2 linked regions of the Homo sapiens genome follow. The protein of the gene in region 2 binds, or shares a complex with, the protein of the main gene of each other region. Each region holds a gene or a part of one and is shown on either strand. Other genes may lie near its edges. The genes, in order: ATP2B1 and NPTN.

What was found.
Region 1: the proteins of NPTN (region 2) and ATP2B1 are in contact, whole or in part, in a cryo-EM structure (PDB 6A69), measured with the Homo sapiens proteins. Residues at the interface, in NP_036560.1 of Homo sapiens: Arg245, Ser246, Asn248, Arg332, Arg334, Pro339, Pro342, Phe343, Gly345, Ile346, Glu349, Ile350, Ile352, Leu353, Ile356, Ile357, Tyr360; in NP_001353449.1 of Homo sapiens: Phe954, Asp955, Ile956, Asp957, Glu996, Arg997, Asn998, Val999, Glu1039, Gln1040, Leu1042, Trp1043, Ile1045, Phe1046, Met1049, Gly1050, Leu1052, Leu1053, Gln1056.

Annotation. Positions count from the first base shown.
Region 1 is NC_000012.12:89,698,387-89,706,992, forward strand, and holds part of ATP2B1 (plasma membrane calcium-transporting ATPase 1), read right to left. Parts: intron 1-8,606. UniProt on the Homo sapiens protein: Catalyzes the hydrolysis of ATP coupled with the transport of calcium from the cytoplasm to the extracellular space thereby maintaining intracellular calcium homeostasis.
Region 2 is NC_000015.10:73,560,390-73,568,995, forward strand, and holds part of NPTN (neuroplastin isoform b precursor), read right to left. Parts: exon of another isoform or gene 6,549-8,606; intron 3,397-6,548; exon of another isoform or gene 2,990-3,396; intron 2,869-2,989; coding exon 2,847-2,868; intron 1,582-2,846; coding exon 1,521-1,581; 3' UTR 1,507-1,520; intron 660-1,506; 3' UTR 1-659. UniProt on the Homo sapiens protein: Probable homophilic and heterophilic cell adhesion molecule involved in long term potentiation at hippocampal excitatory synapses through activation of p38MAPK. May also regulate neurite outgrowth by activating the FGFR1 signaling pathway.

The sequences.
Region 1 (8,606 bases), on a different chromosome or scaffold from region 2:
CATACTGTATGATTCCATGTACATAAAATTCCAGAAAAGTCAAATTATTCTATAGCGACAGAAAGCAGATCGGGGCTGCCTGAGGAAAGGAGGAGCTGGGGTAGGGGAAGGGAAGGAAGATAAGGAGGCACAAAAAATTTAGGGGAATGATTACCTGACTGTGGTGGCGACTGTGGAAATATATACATGCCTCAGAACTCAAGTTTTTCACTTTAAGTGTAAAGTTTATTCTATGCCAATTATATCTTAGTAAGACTATAACAAATTTGTTTATGAGAAAAAAAGGACACAAACTAAATAGAAGTTCTGGATTCAATATGGGTTTCACAGTAGGGTGAGCTGACTGGGACATTTTCTTTGGAGACACAGACACAGCCAATGTCCGATTCTTGAGGTCTTTTACCTTGAGCTGGTCAGGTTAGATAAGACACTTCTATTCTGGCCAGAATTCTGAAAGCTGGGTGAGGGAAGAAGACTGGTGATCTTAACATAAATAGGTAAACACTCGGTTTTGAGTGTGGTACCCTGGTTTTCAACTGTATTCCCAGTGTGCATAGCCTTCTCCAGAAAGCAAGCTTCCAGCCTTCTGCAAGGATGAAGGAAAAGAGATCACAGAGTACAGACAGAGGGAAAGATATCTGGGTATCAAATTCCTAAAATTTCAACCAGTTCTCCCGTTTTGCCCCCCTGTCCCCTCTTCACCATGGGTCCCATGTTTTCCCAGCTTTGAGCTCTCAGGGAATTCTATAAACTGACTTGTTTCTGGGCTTTTCTATTACTTAGAGATCAGCTTTTTAAGTCTACTAAGTCAACGCCTTCTAAAATTTTGGTGTGGGTTTCTCTTCTCCCTTGTGGATTTATGGCTTTTTTAAAAAAGAATTCCCTTATTCTCATTTTAGTATATGTTTGGCAAGAGGCAGAGTTAAATGCTAGTAATATGCCACTTGTTTAACTGAAATCTTAGATAATTTAGCTTTTCAATAAATGTATTTATCTTCATAAATCAAACACGGTGTATCACAGACGAAACGTCAAAATGATGACAAAGTAGTTAAAAGACAAAATTGGAAGGCAAACCTAACAGAATAAAGAAATAAATGGTTGAAAGTTTGGGGGGAGCGGGTAACCTGTTTTTGCTATACAAATTTTGTTAAAAGCCAAATTTTCAAGAGAGAAAAATCAAAACCCCCTGACTTTGTACTTTTTGAGGAGTTAAAGAAACCAAGTGATTTATCCAAGACAAGTGGGCTTTTTAGTGGTGAAGATAAATTTCACATTTAAATCTGGTGAGTCCTTAACATATCATGGAGTAAAAACCAAAACCAAAGGAGACACAGGCTCTGAGAAAGGTGGGTATTTCTAGCAAAAGAAATGCTGTCAGCAGGAGGGCCGGAGGTGATCAAGTTCCAGCATTAAATTATGTACATAAAAACAGTAGTGCTTAAGCTCAAAGGCAGGGTCATCTATTTTTTGAGACAGAGACGGTCTCCCTCTGTCGCCCAGGCTGTAGTGCTGTGGCACAATCTCAGTTCACTGCAACCTCTACCTCCTAGAATCAAGCGATCCTCCTACCTCAGCCTCCCAAGTAGCTAGGACTACAGGTACACGACACCATGCCTGGCTAAATTTTTTTTTTTTTTTTTTTTTAGTAGAGATGAGGTTTTGTCATGTTGCCCAGGCTGGTCTCAGACTCCTGTGGTCAAGCAATCCTCCTGCTTCAGTCTCCCAAAGGGCTGGGATTACAGGCAGGAGCCACTGCGCTCGGCCAAAGACAGGGTAACATAAACTTTACCCTAAATCCACTGTGCATGCAGAAAGGGGTTGACTGACGAATCCTTGTTTTTCTGAGACTCGACATGCAGACAGTTTGATGCTAGAGGAGCTCCCTTTCCTAGGCTTTGTCATATTTCTTTCCCATTCACTGACTGACCTTCCTTGTTTTCAGCCCTCTATTTGCACTGGTACCCTTTAACTCAGTAGTTCTCCGCTATGGTATTAGTTGTCAGGAGTGTCCACACTTAAGTACCTTAAGTTCATGAGTCATTTTTTAAGCAAACAAAAAAGAGTAGTTATAGCACTTACTTTCTTTTGAGCATGAATAGAGAAGAAAAGGACAGAAGTATAGCAAAGAAATTAAAAATCTCTTAGTATTAGAGGTACTAAAAAAATCTAGATATTAGCAAGGGAGAATGGAGTATATGTCAGTATCATCCATGAGTGTCCCAGTAGAAAAACAACTTACTAATCTAACCAATTTCACTTTTGCTGATTCCATTCATCTCTACCTTCAGATTTCTTTTTATTTTCTTCACTACCAAAACCACTCCTGTGCTACTCTTTGACCAACAATTTTATTATGATTATTATTGCAACGTCAATTAAAGCAGGAGCAAGTCTTAGAACTCCTTCCACAATACCTTACCAACAATTAGACCTATAAAATTTAAAAGGTTGGGAGAATACTCAATAGCAGTGCACCTGTAAGGTCTCAGCTGTGCTAATCATAGGAAAATGAATAATTTCTGGAGAACAACTCTTATTTTTTCAAGCATTTTTAAATATAACAGCTTACATACTAAAGCTATATAAATCTTTAGTTACTTAAATGTCTAAAATTACTACTCTATGTATCACTCAGACATTCAATAGAAATGATAAAGTCAAATACAGGCTTTCCTTCTTGACTTCTTGGCAGCTGGAAGAATAATCCATTGCTATACTCTAATACAGACCATATACCTACTCTTCTTCCTGATGCCTAGTGATTCTGTAGCAGGTCATGATCTAACAGTTTGCTCTCAGTTCATGGAACGGCAGCAATGATATGATGCTCAGTCTTTGGTCTGTCTAAATGTGCCCATTCTTCAAAACTCAGCATTACTCCACCCTTTCCCATCATCTCTCTTTGATTTTCTGGTCTGAAGTCCTCCGGGTTGTACACTTCCCATTTATTATCCCTTTGTCTTAGTAATTCATTTGGAGATAACATAAAAGAACTGAGATAAGATATAGGGTTCTATATCACGATATATAGAACTTTATCCAGCAAATGTTCAGGTACTATTTTTTTTGGCATATTGGTTTAGGATTTAGACATTGTGTAGCTTCTGTTAAAGTAAAGCAGAGAAGGTTAAGGAAATTTTTCTGGGAGATTTTTAAAACCTTTTTACCTTTGGAATTTTAACCTTACTCAGATGGGTTCATAAGGCAATGTTTTATTTCTGGAAGATAGCTACATACATTTCACAGAATGTTACTAGGACAGTAGAATTTAGCTTCTCTACAGGCAGGACTTTTCCACTTCTGAATTTCAATGTGGCAGTTAATTTGGTTTTTTTGTTTGGTAAACAGGTTCTTTGCTGTGTCACCCAGGCAGCCTCGAACTCCTGGCCTCAAGCGAACCTCCTGCCTCAGCCTCCCAAAGTGCTAGGACTTATAGGCATCAAGCACAGCATCTGGCCCCTAAGGGTCCTATCAGGTGAGAGGAAAAACACATACACATTCACAACAAAAGGATGAGGGACCACCAGACTCTAAGACCGTCACACAGTGGACAGTCAGCAATACTACAGTATGCAACACAGCTCTCAACTCCAGGAAACACAATTCATTTTGTGTTGTATGTGAACAGCATCCCCTGGAGTTGTGCAAAGCAGTGATCCTGGTACACAAAGTTAACAAGGTGAGATGTTCCACTAAAGGGAGTTTTGTGAAATGAGAGGACAAAACACTAGCCACATTTAGATTCAGCCCTTATTAGCACCTTGAAGTACCAGAGAAGTTCCAAACTGCATAAACCAGCATATCCTGGAGTTTGGTTGTGCCTCTTTCCCCCAGGAAATCCCTATTAATATTTTTTGGAACCAGCATTCTAAAACACAATTTAGAAAACACTGAGCTACTTTATAAAAGGCCTTCAGAGTCAAGTTGTATTTTGATAAAGAGAAAAATAAAAAAAAGATGAAAGTTTTAGTGAAGAAACTGTGGTTTAAAATAGGTTATTGAAAAACAAAAGAAAATTCTGGCACAAATATGAAAGGTAGATTAAAGCAGCAGATCTGAGAGTTTTGAGAGTACAAGATTATTATTTAAAATCCTCCTGAGAGAGAACTCACTCACAGGGTTAATACAATGAATAATAGATCCACATTGTTAATAAAAAAGTATTTAAAAAGCATCTTTCAAGTTAAACAGTCAAATCTTCTTTAAGACCTATTTTTTTCAGAAAACATAAATTTGACTCCTAAATTTATCAGGTCTGTACAGTAGTCATGCCAGTTTACAGTTAGGCAGTGTAATCTCAGATTTCACAGTGTAAGCAAGCATTGGTCCATTCAACACTACCTTTATTTGTTCCCTCAGAGGCCCAGGTGACAGTAGTATTACTACAAAAGCAGGTATCCCATATTTTAAGAAACCATATTGTTGGAAGTCACTGTACTTAGAAATACCAAATATTCTTATAACTAAAAACACCACATACGATTTGGAATAGCTGACACTGTCCTAGGAAAAATTTAATAGAAAATAGCTTTTAAAAATATGGCAAAAAAAAATGTGCCCACAGTTTATTTGGACCTCTCTGCCAAAAATATTTATTAATTTAGATTACCATAAGCTTTAGTAAATTACAAGCTATGATTCCTAAATAAACCTTAAGGTGTAGCCAACAAGACTAAGTTTTGGAACAAACAAAAACAGGTTCCCAACAGTCTTGAGATGAACCTGCTTTGAAATTAATTTTATTATAAAATATATTTTAAATGCAGATACAGGCTATTTGCTATACTGTTATAAATGAAGCAAAAAACAACTGCATTTCAAAACTGGTCTTAAAGAGGAAAATTATTAAAGGCAGGTAATTCACGTGGATATGGTATTAGATAAAATAGTTCCAAAAGTCAGAGTAGATTGGTGAACTACACAAACGGTTATTTAACATTTAAGTGAGACAGCAGTAACTTCTGTTTTAATGCATAAAATAGTAAATTATCAATTAGTATGCTATCACTAATATTCTTGGAAGATCTACTTGCTGTTTTTGAAAGAGCAACTGCTTGTTAACTAAAATTAAAGAGAGCTATCTATCCACTAACTTATGTCCTTTTAGTCTGAAGGAATATCCGATCTTTTCTTCTAACAAAGAGCTAGACTAAAGGATAAACACACACTACTGTAAGGATACAGCATGCATTATTTTTATGAATATAAACTCTGGTGTCTAAGTCATTTGAAAATGGCAGACATTAAGACATGAAAATAAAAGAACATTCTCTAATAGTTTACAGTGCTTAATAAGTAACTTAAGTAACCACAGATGGATCTTCTGAAAGACTGGGCATACATAGATAACAGAAATATTTTCAATTTATCAGTTCTAGGATTGTCACAAAAACCATCGACATCAACAAATCAAACTTTGCTACTGATTTAGGTATCTCTACCATGTAACTTTAACTTAGTTATAAATGCAATGTCAATGTTTCTCAAAATGCAGACTACTGTAGCATTTGGCCCCACCTCAAATCTGCTGAATCAAAATTCCAGGGGCAATGCCAAGGAATCTGCACTTTCAGTAACTCCCCCAGGTGATTCTTCATGCACATTAATGCTGGAGAACCACACCTTTCTTGTGAGATTTATAACCAGGTTTTGGATTTCAGGAACTAAAACCTCCTCATTTGGAACCTTTTAAACTAAATTTCATTACAGAACAAATGAATATTTCAAAGAGATTTAGGTAATAAACATGTTATAGTATAAAAACAAGTGCATAAAAAGTTACAGCAGAAATTTAAAGAAGAAACTTTTAGTACAGCACATTTTATTTTTATTCAAGATTTAAGACACCCCTAGGCCAACAGTTCTTTGAAATCAAAATTCCTAACTTAAAAAAATCCACAATATTAAAAATATAGTATTTCAGATACGTTCACATTCACTCAGCTGTTAAGTAAATCAAAACACAAACTGTTTGTATTACACCAAATATAAGTAATGATTAAATTTATAAAGCTCAACCCAAACAAACCCATTCATATTTCTCTATTAAATTTACTCTGATCAAAACTGATTTTCCATACATAACTTTCATAAACTTACATAAACGTGTATAATGAGAAGAGCAATGAGCAAAATCTAGAAGCCACCTAAAGTCCAGTTTGGGCTAAAAAAGCTGCTAGCTATATGACCTTAGGGCCTAGACAAATCACTTTGCCTACCAGAAAAAAAACAAAAAACAAAAAACAAAAAAAAGTACAATTGTCTGCCTTACTCACCACACAGGATTATTGTGAGAATCAAATGAGGTCATATGTAAATACATTCTGAAAACTGTAAAGTAGTTAATAATAATACCTGTGATTTCTGAAGACAGCAAAATTTGAGAGACACTATCTTTGGGCACCTGCTGTAAAATACACAAACTACCACCAGAAAAATTAAAATGTATATGCCACTAAAGAATCAACGAAGAACATAAAAACTGACCATTCAGATTTAATTAGATATTGGACACTATTGAGTATACCGTATTCTGAAAAATACAAATACAAAAATTCGATTCGATTACCTGTCCTATGTCCCCATTTATAACAGAACCATTTCTTGTGTTAAGATATAAATGAAATGTGATGGACCACGAGAGTTGGTAATTGTCAAAACTGGCCAGTAAGTATATCATTCTCTCTACTTTCCTATGTTTGATAATTTCTATAATAAAAAATTTTAACAAGACAACAATATATGTGGTATGTATAGATAACATTTCTAAAAGCTAAAAAGTGAATTTTTTAAAGTTATTTATCTTTATGAAAATTATTCCCATAACCATTGTATGTTATTTTCCTGGCAATGTCACCTCAGATTCCACCTAGTCCCAAATAAGCTACTATTAGTACCTTTATTACATATCATGACAGCTACTAGAAAATAATTATTCCCTTCCATCTGGTCAATACTCTTGCCCGAGATGCAAAAACCTAAATGTTTGTTTCTGCTTTCTGATCCTCAGTCCTTTTATTGTTTTTTGCTCATCCATTACAAAATTCCAGAATAAAAAAGTGAAAACATCAATTTTACTGTATTCATGTGTAAAATGTAAGGGAAAAAAACCAAATATTATTTTGTTCAATATTACAGAAGACCAATAGTTATAAGTGGCCGTTCCTTTTAAAACTCATTTCCCATGGTAAGAGACTGTTGCATCTGAAATGAAGTTAACATGTCTGTCAGTCAAAGGAAATTAGTAAATCTTACTCTGAAATCAAGGAATCTATGAAAGTATATATAACAACATATAATTACTCTACATGCAACAATCTAATAGCTCAAATAATGTCCTTTATCCCGGGGCCATATTCCATAGTTCGACAGAGAACACATAGCAGTAAGGGGATAAAACACCTTTCATCTCAGAGTTTTTGGCTAATTTTAGTTTAATAAAGACTTATCTACAGCTCAATAGCCAATGCTTTACATTGTCTATAGAGAAATTGCAAGTGTTGAATGAAACCTTAAATGCAGATAGAAGGGCAGTAATATTTTGCGGTTTGTAAGTAAGACTATATGTAATAATATCCACATCTTAATTCATTACTTGGGAGCTAAATCCCTTTTCTCATGTTACATCAAAAAAGGAGGCTGTGCCTAAAGAGACAGTGTTCCTTATACTTATGATTTGGGAAGGAAGGGAAGGGAAAGAAATCTCAACTGTCACTACAGTAACTCTTTTCTAAGTATTAAAATCTCCATTTATTTTTACATGAGATGCACCTGAGAGGAGCCATGTATACAAACCACTTTTTCTAACATGGTCTTTATTAAACTTTGAATATAAGTACACCTGCTCGAAGTGTTCATCTATATTATTTAAGAACAAGCAACTGTAAAACAGTAAAATCACAAAAGGTAAGTTGTTGGAAGACAACAAAAAAGAATTACTATATCTGATCCTGCGTGTTTATTTTAGAATCTGTTAATAGGCCTACAGCTAAAAAAAAAAAAAAAATTGTAAAGCCACTGTCATACTGGTAGGTACCTTTATTTGGTGGCAATGGCTAGTTCAAACCACCTATTAAAAGCAGCTATTACTTTCCTTCTTTTACCAAGAATATCCAGACCATCAATATTATTATAAACACAAATCAAAACTAGTTTCTCATCTCATCTCAGAATGCTAAAATCCCAAGCTTCAATAAAAAAAAGATTTCCCATACAATTGCAGAAATTTCTCTCAAAAGAGAAATGAGAGAATACAGAAAAATGAAGACAATTCCCCCTTACACGTCAAAATGGGGATGCCAATAATGACAGCTGCGATAAAAATCAAGAAGGCGTACCCCGAATTTTCACCATTTTAATAAAAGAAAATCACGAAATTTTAAATTAAAGGTGGCGCTCTGTCCTCAACTCACCCGAATGTGACTCACTTTTGCAGACTATATGGTAGGAAATTAACAGTTACTTTTCAAAGATCTTTGCAGTTACACCCAAGCCAAAATCAGGACAGAGATCCACCCTTAATTACAGCAATTTAGCTGTCTTATCTAAAGCAAGGTAAAAACTAAAACGTCCTCCTGAAATCATAGCTAAATAAGCCCATTTCA
Region 2 (8,606 bases):
ATCATACGTATATACTGCAATTCATTATACCCATTCAGTGGACTGTTCCAGCTTATTAAAGTCACAGGTTAAGCCCTTAAAATTATAGATTTCAGTTTATATTACTCATCTTTATGTACCAGAACTGCACAATTTCCTCATCTGACAACATACAATAAGGAATGAATATCAGCAGCTTAAAAATGAAACAAGCATTTACTTTATTTTGGATTTCTCCCACCCCCAAAAATATAAATATATATATATATATATTTATATACTGTATATATCTGTAGGTTTTGCTGTACTTTACAAAAGTGTATCACTAGATGGCAGCAGTGCATTTTAGAGCTTTGCCAATTTAACAGCTGCATTAAGTAAAAAATGGCGCATGCATGATCTGATCCTCAGAGGACCTTTTCACTTCTATTTAAATATTTTAACAAAGGAAAAAAAAAAGCAACATTCACAGCACATCAAGCCCAAAATAGTTTACACCTTCTACACTGAAGCATTGTTTAAAATGTACCTGGCTAGATCACCCTTACAGGAGAGGCTAAATAAGGCATGCTTTAGACAGTCATTGTGGTGTTGCTCACTTGAAAGGGGAGAGAACCAAAGAGGTCCAAGCAGAAAATTTTAGCAGGTCATGTTGCCACCAGTTTCAGGAACCTAAAGATCTGTAAAGAAATATGTATTTGGAAATTATAAAGGGATTATGCACTGTCACTCACAACTACACCGTGTGCCACACAAAACTTTGGTTCAAACAGCACGCTCAGGGATGTGGTGTGAAATTCTGATCTCCATATGCCTAACAAGATGACATTCTGGCCCTGCTGCTACCTGGCCATTCTTGTCTTGCCCCCAGACGTGAGGTAAGACTAGTAGGCCTCTGGGAATAAGCCACCTAAGAAGGTGACAATTTTCACCTCTTTGTAAAGATATAATAGTAGTGAAAAGTGTTGATTTTAAAATATGTCTTCTGAAATGGCATTTATATAAACATGTGACACAATGCACCTGATGGCGGGGCACACTGGCTCATGCCTGTAATCCCAGCACTTCTGGGAGGCTGAGGCAGGCGGATCACTTGAGGTCAGGAGTTCAAGACCACCCTGGCCAACATGATGAAACCCCGTCTCTACTAAAAATACAAAATTTAGCTGGGCATGGTGGTGGGCAGCTGTAATCCCAGCTACTTAGGAGGCTGGGGCAGGAGAATTGCTTGAACCCGGGAGGCGGAGGTTGCAGTGAGCCGAGATCACACCACTGCACTCCAGCTTGGGCAATAGAGTGAGACTCCATCTTAAAAAATCCAAACAACAACAAAAAACAACGCAGCTGAAAAATGTTCCTTTCCAGTCCCTAAACTGGGCAGACAGAACTGGCTTCATCAGTATCAGCTGCTCTGAAATGAACTAAAATATCTTATAACACCAATTACTGAAGAATTTGTAACAAGGTCAATAGAGGCACATTCATTTGAATATAATTTTTAAGACTGCTACAGAAGGCCATACTTACATTGTAAGCAGTACTTAATTTGTGTTTCTCTGGCGCAAGTTTTTATCTTTGTGATTGTTGGTAGAGTTGGTTTTCCTTTGGAGGAAAAATTGCATTACATGAGTTAAACTCAGTCAATAACTTTTCAAAGTATAACACATGGAAATACAGGGACTCTTTCACTTACTGCCATCCCTGGTGTAGTGAGAAATTTTGTGGCACAATATGAGTGCATAAAAAAACATTCCTTAAGTAGCTACAGGTTAAGTATCCCTCATCTGAAATGCTTGGGATCAGAAATGTTTCAGATTTTGAATTTTTTTAGATTTTGGAATATCTGCATTATACTTACCAGTTCAGCATCCCTAATCTGAAAATCCAAAATTCAAAATGCTCCAATGAGCATTTCCTTTGAGCCTCATGTGAGCACACAAAAAAAACTTCAGATTTTGGAGCATTTCAGATTATGGATTTTGGTAGTAGGTAGACTCAACCTGTATATACCTCATTTTATCCTCCTTTTGACCCCCAAGGCAGACGAGTACTTTCCCTTCGAATCCGGAACTATAATTACGATACAGGTGAGAATATGTAAAACTTTTCTCCACTGAACACAACACCACTGTCCCTTCTTGATAAAAGGTAATCATAAGCTGGCAGTGCTGGGCCCTCTGGTACTTAACAAATTTGGGTGCTGTTTGTCTGCTTCTCACTCTTTAGTCCAACTCTAGGAGATTCTGCCGATCTTAGATTGATTCCATACCTGCAGTACCCTCTCTCTTGGATACGAGCAATTGTTAATGGGGCTAGACAGTTTATCCAGGCTATAGTTCAGCCTCAAATTGCATTACATGAGTTAAACTCGGTCAGTAACAACTTTTGAAAGTATAACACATGGAAATACAGGGACCCTTTTACTACCATCCCTGGTGTAGTGAGAAATTTTGTGGCACAATATGAGTGCATAAAAAAACATTCCTTAAGTAGCTACAGGTTGAGTATTCCTCATCTGAAATGCTTGGGATCAGAAACGTTTTAACATTGACAAAACCGGGAGCCTCAGATATACTGGCCATTTCCCCCACATTTTAAGTATATCAAATACACAAAATTTGAAAAAAAAAAAAGTTTTTTGCATGGTATTCCACTTTGTATGGCCACTGGAAAACAAGACTGCATAACCTATCCTGAGAATCAAGTGGTTTTTAGTCAGATCTGTGTCAAGCTAAGAAATCTACACTGCAACCTTCATTTCCACTCACTGTCTTCCCCTCCAATCTTAGCTACTCCATTTGATTAAACTGCAAACACAACATCATTCAATCAGATACTGTTGAATCAATGTCCAATAAAGTACTTACATTGGTCCAGCTGGTTCATCATCTACATGGTGTTCAGTTTTTTAAAAATCCATGAGAGATAAGAGAAGAAAGGAGAAAACTGTTAGATTCTGCATAAGGATTAACAGAATAGCAAACTGCAAGTGGCAATCATGGCTACTCACAGCATTTATTAAAGGCCATTCCATCTGGAGGTGCAAAACACTCATGGAGTTATTATTTCTAGATTCAAGTTTAAATGGCAGGTATGTTGTTTCAATGGTTTTAGTTAACACTTTGAATGCTTGTCATGAAAAACTGCAACTGTAGCGGACAGATAGGCTGCAACATTGTTATACTCATCTTGTCCCCAAGTTCCAGTGGTTCACTCTTAAATAGATGAGAAGACAAACCAACATTTCAGTTGTAAAATCCTGCTGTTTGTTTTCTTGTGGTGAATGCATGCAGTTTTGGCTCAATCCTGCAATGTGAATGGATGTGTACCATCTGTACATTTAGCCACACATCCTCACTTCCCCAAAGGGCACTCTGTTTTTCTTGCTGTTTTGTAATCTTTAGAAGAGTCTTTAGTCTGGAGAATGAGATTGAGAAGAGGCAATCACAATAGTTCAACCTAAATTGGGTCAGCCATGCTGGGCTATGCCAGCAACAAGTGTATGTATACCAGAGGATGTTCTGTGACACACCGAGGAAAGCTGAACAGTGGTGACATCCCTCTAGAAAAGACTTCAGAAAGACAGGCTCACTCCTGTGCCCTGGCCAAAACCAGAAGCCAAACCCAGGGGAGCCATGAGATAACTTTTTTAAAATCAAAAAGCTGACATTATATGAGTTTAAGCCTTCTTAAATTGATACTTTATGATTCTGATTTATAAGTCTTTCGTGTTTCAACTAAGTGCAACTTGATCCCCTTTAAGCAGAGATACACATTCACAGAGAGAGAATGTTTTAAAAAGACCCACAAGGGGAAGGGAACAAGTAAGTGCTCTTAGTTTGTTTTTATTATACAAAAGTCAGGTAAACTAAATGATTCAGAACAGTTTGATTTCACTGAAGGCTTCTAGAAAAATTCTCAGCAGGATTCCACAAGGGGGCTTGGTGCACATGAAGCAGTTATGGAGATTACAGTCTCAGTGTAGGCATCTGCAGGAGCACATGTCGGGAGTAATGTCTGTCAGAGGGAGACATTGCTCCACCTGTTCCTTCGAGGCAACGGAGAGGCAAAGCCACCGCCAGCACACACAGTGACTGGAGCAAAAAAGGATTTCAAAAAAAAGAACTAACCACAAACCAATGACTCATCAGCCAAAACAATAGGCTAGCGACACACTAGTGTCCACAGGAGTCCACTACTAACAACAGTATACACTATCAAACGGGTACAGAGAACAAACTAAGACTTAAGGACACCCAAGACATCTGTGTGCTGTGTATGCAGTGGAGAGATACAAAGACATACCAGGTACTAAGACACAAAAGCCCAGCCTAAATTCTCCCCTCACAACATCCTAATGCTCAGCATCCCGGCCAAGCCAGCTCAGCTACATGCTAGGAACTAAGCACTTTGGGGATTTAAATGAAAAGACATAGGAGCAAACTTGGAATACTTTTAGTGCTCTGGCTGTGCACTCGAAAATACAAAATTCTAATGCAAGAGAGCCGAATCAAGAATACACCAATCTACTCCCAAATTTAAAATAAAAAGCAGGGGAGGGAGAATCGCAATAGCCAGGCTAATCTTTTCAAAGCATGACACTGTAGGCACCAACCCAAGCACCTCACACCACGGGCTGTTTTTCCTTTTGGAGTGTGGGTATTCCCTGGTGTCTGATTAGTAATGTCACTTTCCAGCCCAACAAGCTGGTAACATGCAAAGGGTTGCATGGAGGTGTTTTAGCGACAGTGCCTCCGGCATAGCTGCCATGCCTGCAAGTGGGAGCAGTTGAGATTCACAAGGGGGCAAAATCCCAGGAGCCCTCTTCATCTGTCTCCCCAAATCCACTTTCACACTGACAAACAAAAGAGCCTCATGTCTCCCCACTCTCCTGGACTGAATCACTATCTGCAGCACCACTCTCCCCTACAGGTCAGACAAAAAAACGACTTGACCCCTAACAGGGAAGTCAGGGGAGAGGGAAAGAACAGAATTACAGAAAAAAGATACAGAAACCAAAGTAAATGAGGATTAAACAGCAAACTGAAATCCAAATTAGTTGTGAAAGTGAATGAAGTAAACTTGAAGAAAAGTGTTAACATTATGAACTGTGCATCGTATAGACTGAAGCGGAGATTAAACAAACTCCAAAAGCATGCATATCGCTCACTTACCACCATGTTTTAAGGGTTTGATGCAATTGAGGGGGGAAAAAAAAGAAGTCATAGTAACCGACAAATATCAACATACCCCAAACCCTCAGGCCAAAAGATAGCCAGCTTAAACAATGACTGTTCTCTCCACCTCAGTATTACAGCCACTGGCTAGATGAGAGGAAGAGGACTGGGGGGATAATGGAAACAAGATGCTTCTGGAATCCACCTTATGAGAGTGAAGTTACCGGTGGAACTGTAGCACACACTGATTTATCTGCGTGTTCCATCTTCCCAACCGAATGGACCACAGCCCTCACTCCCCCTATATCCGCCTCATCATCTAGAAGGGGTGCTCTGCAATGTCTAGTAAATAACGGATTGCCTAATACAATATCACCTCCAAAAAGATGGCTTTAAAGTCCGAATAATGAAGAGTTGACTCTCTGGTCAAAGGTCCTTTGTCACTGCATTCATCTCACTAGAAGGTTTTATGGTTTCTAAATCCACTTAAATTTTGCCTGACCTTAGCAGGTTAGCATTAAACCCAAGAGAGACTGAGTTACTTCCTATTTCCTTCCTTGTTTGGTCCTATTGCATTTTCTCCATGAGGTAACTTGTTATTGACCCAGATGGCCCCTAGTTAACAGACCAGACACCGAATGCATGTTTTAGGTGTCATTTTAAAAGTCACATTTCTTTTCCAATATCCCTAGTCTGTATAAAGCTTCATATGCTACCAAATGTTTTGACCAACGAATAGATTTTGGAACATTAGAACAGCTCTTCATTCTAAAGTGTCTAAAAGAGCTTGGATATATCAGAGCCACTAAAAATGGCCCCCCAAAAAACCTCAAATATCTTCTCCATCAGTAACTTAAAGAGAGTCCCTTTGACTTGCTTATAAAAAATTATCCCAAGGTAAAAACAGAAAGTTCTTTTTTGGTACCAGCACTTCTTTTCTTAAATCAGCTCCTGTTTTAATTTGCTGTCTGTGAGGTCACTAAAATATCCAGAAGAACTGCAGGCCTCAGCAACTAAGTGGGTTCACTCCCCATTCCTCCAGGGCCTGGGGAGGGGAGACTCAGGAGCACAGGCTGACTGCTCCTGGAGTGCAGTCCGCAGGACACCAACACAGAAGGTGCACCCAAGCAGGTGCCCAGCTGTGACATGGATGGAAGCCTAGAGGCTGCTAGCTTGACCTGGTCTTTTTAGAGAACTATCATTTAACATTTTCAGGGAATACAGTCAAGTGGTGAGTCAAGTGAACAAAACAAAGCTCTTATTTGACTCCATGATTCACTTGTTCCTGAAAATACTGAAGGTAAAGGTGATCTGTAGATTAGTCCACCTACAAGACAACCTAGTGGGCACTGATCCTCAAAGAGACCATACAGGGGACTAAAGGAATGCAGGTGGGTGTTTTCATGTAGGAAATGGTCTGAGAATACTCCAGTAGGTAAAGAAAAAAGACATGGGGCTTTTTTTTTTTTTTTTTTTTTAAAGGAAGCAGCTAAACCTCAATCCTAAGCATTTTCAATGTGAGAAATCTAAATATTTGATTTTCTAGTGAAACATACTTAAACTAAACTATGTAAGTTCAAATTTGTGCTTTTATACTTTTGTATTGTTCACTTAGTGCTTTTGTAGTAAGGGGATGAGTTACCAAGAACTCACAGACTGCCCAAAATATGACGACTGTGCATTCATATAAAAAAAGTTCAGTGAGTCTGAAATGAGCCATGGGTGTATCTTGATAATAAAGTGCTATTTGGCAAAGTAGAAGTATGGCAGGCCTATAAAAAAATTCCCATTTTCCTAATGGTATAAAAAAAATCCAACACAGAGCCACAGATGGTTATCTGATAGGTAAACACTTATGACCTCTTAACACTCCCAAGTTTGTGTCAAATATAATGTACCTCTTCGTTTATTCCAAAAGGAGTGTACGTATATATCTATATGAAAATTTGGGGAGAAGCACATGGGAAGGAAGCAGACAGGTAAGTTTGTCCTTCCTATGGAGTGCACAGGGGTTGAGGGGAACTGGCTAAAGAAGGAAAAGGCAGAGAAGAAGGAAACTCACCAAAGAACATTCAACTTTTTCTTTTGTTTAATGATTACTTCCAGGAAAGGAGAAGAAAAGCGGGCAGGGGTGGAAGCAGGATGGAGTTTGAGAGAAAGACAGAAAGAGACAGAGGAGAAAAACAGAATGGAAATACTGGAGCAAGGGCAGGGTGTGAAGATGGAGAGTGGAGCCTGGCCCACACTGGCTGTCAGGAAGGGAAGGAGAGAAGGCAAACATTGCCATCATTCCAGCATCTCAGATTTTTCACCCCAATGCAACAACAACGAAGTAAACGCTGCTTTCATTACAATACTCTCCCAAGAGACTAGAGCAAGGAGGTTTTACTTTGCACTTACCCTGCCGTCATCTCTTTTAAGGGTAGGATTCATTCACTGTCTATAATAACTTAGTTTAAAAGAGGTACTTTCCCTCTAGGAAGCTGTTCAGATTTGCTGGCCACAGATGTCTCCTATAACAAACTGGTCCCCCATTTGATTTCAGTAACCAAGAAAACTCTTACAAAAAAAGAGCTGCTTCCCTGGGCAGGTGTCTGCACTTATCCAACAGAACAATCCTAACCATTTCTCAAATCTAACCTACCACATGCACTGTGATAGCAACCTCATAAGCGCGGTGACTTCTTAGGGCAAAGACTAGACCTCTGCTGGGAACACGCTAGGCTGCTGCATCACTCTCACCAGTGGCAGCCAGCCTTGCCTTAAAATTTAAAAATCAGGTTCTGAAGTCCATCTCTGCCTTCTCTTACCTGACTTTTTAGCTTCTCAACCTTTCCAAAAGGCAGGCTGAGGAAGGTGGTATTGGCAAAGCAAAAGCATTCTGGGGGGATAAAAAGGCCCTTTTCAGGAATGAGGCATAACTGATCCCACAGAGCCAAAGCTGAAAACACACGAAAGACAGGCAACTCTTTCCCTTTACTCCCAGGTCTAAATAAAGGTGCACTCTTGCCTTGGGAGTCCTAATATGTAGCAGGAAAGAAATACCTGGAGAGAAAAAGCATTAGGAGTACATGAAATCCCAAAGAAAGCAGGTTCACTTCATAAAGTAGGAAAGTAAAACTCATGGGGACACTCCCAGGTTGCAGGAAACTAGAGATTCATTTGCAGAGGCCGTCTGCTCCCAGCCAACGTCCTTCCCACGCCTCTGCCCAGCTCACTGCTGAGTGCACATCTGGAGGGAGTCACCAGATATTGTCAGTGTCATCAACAAACCTCCTCACCAGCCACTCACTCTACTTACTGCAGGCAGAGAGATTTATAACTGCTGAGAAGAAAGGAAAAGATGGGGAAGGGGCTGTTGCTCTCAAACATGTCCTCCCAGAGAGTCTAAAGCCACTGGCATGCCTCTGGGGCCACATTCTTTCTGAGGGAGCACCAGATGTCACTTTG